2 separate regions of the Homo sapiens genome follow, and region 2 is reported to be linked to region 1. The links are microRNA targets in miRTarBase. Many come from high-throughput screens and were not tested one by one. Region 1 holds a microRNA gene; the other region holds the end of a gene's coding sequence.

Evidence for each region. Region 1 holds the annotated microRNA hsa-miR-5572 (GUUGGGGUGCAGGGGUCUGCU, at 2,287-2,307, shown strand). A microRNA usually pairs through its seed, bases 2 to 8, with sites in the 3' UTR of a target mRNA and lowers its output. Matches are read on the target gene's strand: a 7mer-m8 pairs with bases 2 to 8, a 7mer-A1 pairs with bases 2 to 7 and ends in A, and an 8mer does both.
Region 2: miRTarBase lists NAA50 as a target of hsa-miR-5572. Seed matches in the 3' UTR shown: 7mer-m8 at 3,606-3,612.

What each region holds. Positions count from the first base shown.
Region 1 is chr15:80,578,893-80,583,043 of GRCh38, forward strand. It overlaps MIR5572 (microRNA 5572), which reads left to right and starts at 2,211; the gene lies at 2,211-2,347. ARNT2 (aryl hydrocarbon receptor nuclear translocator 2) reads left to right here. Exons shown (of 19, transcript NM_014862.4): 16 at 1,519-1,657; 17 at 2,347-2,512. ARNT2-AS1 (ARNT2 antisense RNA 1) reads right to left here. Exons shown (of 2, transcript XR_007064732.1): 2 at 1,138-3,869.
Region 2 is chr3:113,718,077-113,722,076 of GRCh38, forward strand. It overlaps NAA50 (N-alpha-acetyltransferase 50, NatE catalytic subunit), which reads right to left. Exons shown (of 5, transcript NM_025146.4): 5 at 1-3,861. The coding sequence ends at 3,684. Among named protein-coding and RNA genes, the nearest start is that of USF3, 23 kb to the left of the region's middle.

The DNA of each region.
Region 1 (4,151 bases):
GCTGTGGGATGAAGGACTCTGGGGCCCAATACAGCCATAGGGAATCCTGGGCCGCTTGCAGAATGGTGTTGCTGGCACCTGAAGTGCATCCTCACCCACAGTCCTCCCTCTCTGGTCCCGCCAGTTTTGGCCCCTGCCTGTCCACACTAAGGCAGGCAGCTGTAGCCCAGAGGCCCCCAGGGAGGGCTGTGCACAAGGGCTGGCGCTTTGCCCCAAGAAGCCCATCCCTTTCTGCCAAGGCGCCTTTCCTAGGACCGTCTACGCTGTAGCGGCCCTCATCAGTCAGTGTTTTGGGGAGGACACCAAGGGCTGGGGGCTGTGGAGAGGGTCCTACTAGACAATAGTGACCAGAAAATGTCCTCTGAAGCAATACTTTCATCAGGAAGGAGAATGGGAAAGGAGCCCTTATGTTAAATGAGGAATTGATTGTATGAAGACAGAAATGATGTCCCCTTTATATAAGCCACTGAACTTGTTTTACAATGATCAGCTCAAGAATGTCTCTGACATTCTTGGTTTCTCCCTATTTTAAAAGGGATCAGATAGCATAGGAAACTTATTAGAATACAATAGTAAAATTTTACCCAATCTCTGCTGATCTCTGGCTTGCCTTTTTTTTAACACGGAGCTGAAAATCTACCAAAGCCTTCTGTGATGAGCCCCATTCTGCCCTACTTGACTGATTCATGGGCACCCAGCGCACTGCCCTGCATGCTGAGCTAGTCCCAGGGAGGCAGGAGGAGGGGCCTGAAACAAAGTAAAAGTCTGCCCCCAGCCTTTTAGTCTTTGATGAGCTTCTCATGTAATCGACATAGCCTGGAAAATCTCCTGGAAGAAGCGCCTGGTGGTACAGACAGTGCCTGCCGAGGAGCTAAGCAGGGTCAGAGATTTAGCCTGCAAAGGCCATGCAGAGAGCACGGCACACAGCAGGGGCCTAATAAAGACAAACTGAGTTAAGTCGAAGGTGAACTGAAGGTGGGAGGGGTAAACTCTGGGTAGCAGGACTAGGCCCCATCCAGCAGGTTTTCATTGAGAAGCTTTTCTTTCCGTTTAAAACTGACAGCCTGCAACCTATTTCCTGAATCCTTAAGCCTCATAGGTGCCCCAAAGGAACAAATTAACCAGAGCACAAAAGAGTGAGTGAACAGTGGGACTGATTTTTATTCTAAGAAGCTTCTCTCTTTCTGGGAACCAAATCATCTGCTGAGAGCAGAGGATGTACAGGCATAGGATAGGGGCTGAAGAGTGCGTGGGAGACCCTGGGGAGAACGAGGAGAGGAAGTACCAGACTACTAGACATGGCAGGACTACTCAGCAGTGTAGAGGAAGCCCTGAAGGGAGAGGAGGACGGCCAAGGGGCTTTGAGGCTCACGATGTGTGAGTCATTTTCTCTAGTGACGTGCTGCATGGAGAGAGAGCCAGGAAGATGGCCCAGGGCAGATTGTGTGGTTGGCTGGGCACGTAGACTCATGCAAACCAGGTGTGTCCTCGGGATAAATGCATTTTCCTCTTTTCTAGCTCTTCAGTGGTTCATGTGCCTGGAGTGAATGATATTCAGTCCTCTTCTTCCACGGGCCAGAACATGTCCCAAATCTCCCGGCAGCTAAACCAGAGTCAGGTGGCATGGACAGGGAGTCGTCCGCCCTTTCCGGGACAGGTATGGGCATCTGTGAGGGCATCTCCCCTGGGTGACCAGAGAGGCAGAGCACTCTGGGAAGTGTTTTCTTTGGATTGCGGTTCTGAGGATGGGTCGGCTCCTAGCTGGAACCAACCACCCTAACAGCAGCTGGCTACTCAGGAGCACCATCCACCCTCAGGGCTCTCGGAGAGCCAGGTGCCCAGCCTGCAACTTCAGCAGCCTTTTCTCCTTACAGCCATGCCCTGAGGCAGCTGGCAGGGAAAGGTTGGGCAGGTTGAGACACCTCATCAAGAATGAGCCCCTCACTACTCTGGACCTCTGGCTGCCCCTGCGCCAGGAGGGCATGAAACCACCAACCCTTGTGACATCCCCAGACCCTCATAGTCACTGTGAGGGTGGGTGTTGATTGGGCTGAGGGAGTTCTAGGTGTTCATAATGCCAAGGCCTTGGTAACCAGACTCCAGAGGGCCCGGATCCTCGTAGCCCTGGGGAGTAACTTCAACCAGACGTGCCCCAAAGATCCTGCAGTTCCTGGGCCCTCACACACCGGGCTGATCCCAGGCCTGTGCCTAGCCAGACAAGAGGGTCATGGGGAGTCACTGTCAACCCAGAGCAGGCACTGCCCCTGCGACCAGCCTGGGGCATCGGTTGGGGTGCAGGGGTCTGCTGGTGATGCTTTCCATCTCTTTGCTTTGTCCTGATTGTAGCAAATCCCATCTCAGTCCAGCAAGACTCAGTCATCTCCCTTTGGGATTGGAACGAGCCACACCTACCCGGCAGACCCCTCTTCCTACAGCCCCCTCTCCAGCCCAGCTACCTCCTCGCCAAGTGGGAATGCCTACTCCAGTCTTGCCAACAGGACTCCAGGGTTCGGTAGGTGGGGAATGAGGGAGTGAGATTCTGGGAAAGCCAGCACAAATGCTTTCTGAACAGCCTGAATTCAGGAGGCTGAGCTCCAAGCTCCCAGCTACCAAAACAAGGTCTGGAGGTTTCCAAGCACCTCCTCTCTCTCTGGCTATGAGGAGGCCTATGGTGTTCCTAAGAGACTGGATGCTTAGGCCTTGGCTTTGTGATTTGACTTTATCATTTTCAAGGCATTGGGATGATGTTGCTGTGCTGTGAGGTGATCTGAATACCATTTTAACCCATTATGGCCCTGGCAAGGATTTTCAGGTCCCCCAAGTCAAAAACCTTATAGTCTTGTTTCAAGAAACTAGAGAATAGCTATAGAGACAATCAATTGCATAAATAACACTGCAAAGTTTTCTGTCTCTTTTAAATATTAAAAACACCTATCTTACTTTGTTAACAAAACCTCAGGCCATAGAGGGTTAAGGAACCGCTGTGTCCTGTGCATTTCTCAGGATCCTGGGCCTTGCCCACTCTCCGTGTGTGTAAGGAACCTCCTCAGCATGTCTCCCAGGGCTAGGGTTCCACTCCACGTCAGGACAAGCTCATAAGAGACCCGTGGTCCTGGTAAGAAGTCCAAGCTGGTGCCTGCTTTCTCACAGTGAGGTCACTGGGTGACACCCAGCAGTGCGGCTCATAGAGCTTTTCTCTACAGAATTGATTCCTCAGATGAGCGTGAATCTGAGCCCAAACATCTGAATTTCCACGTGGCAAGTTAAAAGCTTCCATTAGAACTGCTTGTCTGTCAGCCTTATGAACAATTCTGTGCAGGCAGGGCGCGGTGACTCACATCTGTAATCCCAGCACTTTGAAAGGTCAAGGTGGCAGATCACCGGAGCCCAGGAGTTCAAGACTAGCCTGGGCAACATTGCAAAACCCTGTCTCTACAAAAAAAAAAAAAAAAAATTAGCCAGGTGTTGTGGTGCATGCCTGTAATTCCAGCTACTCAGGAGGCTAAGGTGGGAGGATCATTTGATCCCAGGAGGTTGAGGCTGCAGTGAGCCATGATCACACCACTGCACTCCAGCCTGGGTGACACAGTGAGACCCTGTCTGAAAAAACAAAAGAAAGAAAAATGCTGTGCAGAGCCCCTAGCACACAATGGGGAGTTGTCATCTGCTGCCCAGCCCTCCCCACCTCCTCCACTAACAGCAGCACGTCCGTCCCACTCAGCCCGAGGTCTTGGGGCACAGCATTTCCTGAGGCCATGCTTGTCCCTCCAGCCTTAGTCCCATTTACTTGCAGTGTGTCTCCTCTTCGTCTGTTAAGTATTCTCGCCACGTGGTTCACTGGAACCCAGTTTAGAAGCACAGCACCCTGTCTGAGGAAGGAGAAACCCCATAGCAGTTGCTCTCAAGTCAGCCAGGCACTCAGCACGGTTACCACCTTGAGCCCAGAATCCTGTTTCTCAGGATAGCATCCACCTTCCTGCAGTCACACGTGAGATCCTTCTCCACATCTGGTTCCCCACCCGGGTGTGGAGAGACCCCTTCACCTCCTCCTGAAGGTGGGCCTCATAGACTCAAGGCCTCCTGGGTACCTAGTCCTTCCCGGAAGCCCAGGGACCATCTGGCACCGATCTACTCAAAAAAACCTTCAGTGC
Region 2 (4,000 bases), not on the chromosome of region 1:
AAAAGTATGGTTTCTGCTCACTTTCTTATATCACCTGCTCTAGGGGAAGCCACATACCAGTTGTCCACCAGGCAACTGGTGCCCAAGGAACTGAAGCCCAAGAGCCACGTGAGCATCAGGCACTGTGTGTGATACCCACACAGTGAGGAACAGAAGCCCAAGAGCCACGTAAGCAAGACATCTTGGAAATGGCTCCTCTAGCCTTGTCAAGCTTCAAGATGGTACAGTCCTGGCTAACAGCTTGACTGCAACCTTCTGAGATCTCAAGACAGAACCACCCAGTTAAGCAGCTCCTAGATTCCTGATCCAGAACTGTGGAAGGTAATACTTGTTTGTTGTTTTAAACTACAGTAATAACTGAGACACACTAGACAAGGATCACTCATTGCTTCTTAAATGAAAAAAGCAAAAATCTAATTATAACAATTTTGACTAGAAATATTAAATACTGAATTCTGTTAAAGAAAAAATCTTAAATTCATGTTTGATAAAAAGCTTAAAAGCCAATTCCCAACTCATTGAACTACCGTACTCCTTCCTTACAAGGAAGAAAAACAAAACACCTGAATATGTTGTCTGTAGCCAATAAACATTACTAACTAGATTGCAGCCTAAAGTGTCAAGTATTTCTAATAATTACATTAAAAATACAGCAGCAAGACAGTTCCTTGGATCTTACTTTTTCCCTCTCATTGGAACTGAATTGTAGATATTGGGCACTGTACCTAGCAAGTCACAGAAGATCTGAATTAGGATGCCTTAATTACACTTGGCCTATTTTAATGATTTTAAAATTAGATCTTAAATGTGAAAGTAAATAAAAGCAGTAAGGGAAACACTACACAATGAGTATGTACGGTTGCTGGCTGCAGAATTCAACAATACAGTTTTGACATTTACAGATATCACAGATCACTACCAGAACATCACATAAGTTTATTTCAGATGTAACAGCAATGTTAAAATTGACAAGTTTAATTCTTAACTGCACCAAGTAAACTTAGCCATTTAAGTATTTTTTTAAGTTATTCCCTCCAAAAAACTGAGGGAGCTTTTCTTTTCCACCACCACACCATGGTTTCCCAATAGTTCTCTTTTTGGAGGACTTTTCAATTGATGAGTAAACTGCTTTAGATATTTCAGAACTTCATTCCCCAAATGAAAGCTAATCTGGACAAACTATATATTGCATAGATTTCTCTACAGATTCTTTGCTTTAAAACCTAAATGCAACTAACATAGTGTAATTTTAACCTATTTGCCCCACAGTAAAAACTATCTGTCCTGAAAAATATGATGGATATATCCTGTGATTTTCCAGTTAACAGAATTGTTCTACTTCAAAGATAATTATTATCATATATCAAAATAACCAGCTCAACATAGGACATTACTTCAGTCTTTACTGACTCATAGGCATATGAACTTGTGCCCAGCTTTTTACCTCTTCCACATTCTCCTCCTCCTCCATAAGTGGATGGAATTATTTAACTAAGTTTGATGTAGGACAATTAACCCTTTACAAACATTTACAATTCAGGTTAAGTCACTGACTACCGTGGAAAAAGAAACTCTATATATAATGATAGGGAGCCTACACACTCAATTCAAAATTTAATATTTTTTCCTCCTTAAATAACATGTACTTGTCATGAGGCAGCTATTAGGTTTTCAATAACCACATTTAGGGATACATTCATAGGACTGATTAGATAGTCCAGGTGAAATGGTTATAGAAATAGAGGCAGTGTCATCTCAGAAAACCATTTATATATCAAAGTCTATTTTGATATCTGGGAAGTTTACAAAAAGGCTGCTGCATTCTTCAAACTACTTATGCCTTCTGTAACTCAAGCACTCTTCTCTTGCCAAGAGCAAGCTGAAGCTTATTCATGAAGATAAAGGTGCTTAACGCTAAACTTTTCTTCTAAGCTTAGATTTGGATTGTTTAAGAAACGAATACCCCCAAAAAACCAGCAAGGTCTTTCTACATTTTTACCATCTTAAGATTAGAACCCTATAAACTCATTCATCAACTGTCTTCTTTTTCTGTATTATTCTTGGCACTCAAGATTGTTGAAGTCTACTGCACTTTGTACTTTCACATTCTCAAATAAAAACTTAAGGTTATAAAGTGTGCATAAACATTTTATAAAATAATTTTGTCATTTAACATATTTGGAAATGAGACTTTATACCGCAATTTTACATAAGAGGATAAATATGAATGAAACTTCCTTTTAAAGTCAAATGACAGAAAGCTCAAGCCCTGTGCATTATTTTAAAGTCTGAGAACATTTCTAAATAGTGGAGATGGGACTACAAAAGGAAAACATGAATATTTCAGATGTCTCCCATCTTACAAAGTTATCAATCTGTCAAAGCCACTCCGTGTGTGCCGGAAAATGATCTGGCATAAACCAGTCCTCTCAGTGGAGGAGGTCACAGTGACATTTGTATTATTAACATTTTACACTTCTATTTTTCCAAGAATAGAAGCAATATGTTTAATAATTACCCCTGCCTCAAATCCTTAAACTCAATATCACAGGCACTGAGTATAAGCAAATCTGGGATGTCCTCCAACAGATGTGCAATAGCACAGCTATGTTATTCTCAAAAATACTATTTTTTCCTATAAAATCAAATGCTCAGTGGCCACACTTTTAACAGCTGGCATTAGATGACAGTAATTGAATTTTTTGTGTCACAGCCCATCTAAGCTTCCTTTTAGGTATTTTTTAGTATGTCCAAGAGAAAACACCTGCTTCAGGTTTATTTAGGGGTAGTGACCTATAAGGACATCAACTCAATTTTTAAGGTTAGACTATTGTTGGGTTTACTGAAGAAAAAGGAACGGGAAAAAATTAAATCACAACACACCTCTTTAGGTCAGTTAAAGGCCATATCTCTAGCTGGGATATTAAAAAAAATTAATCTCACCAGCCCAAATTCTAAAAGTTAATGCCACTAGTAACAATCAACAGCAGGAAAAACAAACCTGCTAACAACCAGCCCACTCATTAGCAAAAAAGCAGTTTAACTCAAATACTTAGACCAAAGTATAACACTAAACCAAACTGCCCCACCCACCAGCAAGAAGAGAAGATATAATTACTTAAAAATCAACATAAGCTTAGTATTTCTTACAAGGATAACAATGTTCCAACTCCCGAGAGAGTGCTCAGAAGGACTAAAGGTGGAGTGAAGGCAATGTCTAGGGATTAGTATCCCAAAGTGTTTAAAAACCCAAAGTACCACAAACACACTCAACTTGTCTATGAATTAGAGAACAAGATACTGCTGCTGCTTCTTTTTGTCTTTTGAAATATACAATGTTTTGTAGGCTCTGCCCTTCAATGTGAAAGCAGGACATTAAATTTGAAATTATTTGACAATTAAATGTTTAGGACCATCTAACTTCAACTGCAAAACTAAACAGATCTACCTTGTCCTTCCTTCAAACCACCTCACAAAAATAAGAGAAAACAATTCAAACATGATTATTTTTTTAAAGTCCTTGAAAGTATTAAAACTCTCAGAGAAAAGGAAAGGAAGAAAGAAAAACAAGAACAAGGAGGGAGAAAAGCTTTAAAAGAAAAGTGTTGGGGTGGGGGAGGAATCAATGGGCCTCTCTTTTATTTGGCGACAAGCAAGTGCAAGAAAGTTCATTTGTAATTTGTTCAGTTGTCTGTCTTTTGCACATCTGCATTCTGACCAGAAGGAACTTTGAGGTTTTTCTGCAGCACATGAGCATCTGCGGGCTCTATCCTCTTATAGTAGTTCTTCTTTGTCTCAATAATCTCAAAGCCAAACTTCCTGTAGAAGTCAATTGCCGACTCATTGCTGATCTGGACATGCCTGAGATATAAGAGAGTATCAGAAAAAAAATTAAAATTAAGGTTTCATCAAGTTTTAAGCATTCTCCACAGATAGCTCCAAACATCTGTTACATTCTCTTTACAACTACCAGTAATCAACAAGGGTTAGGCATGCTTAC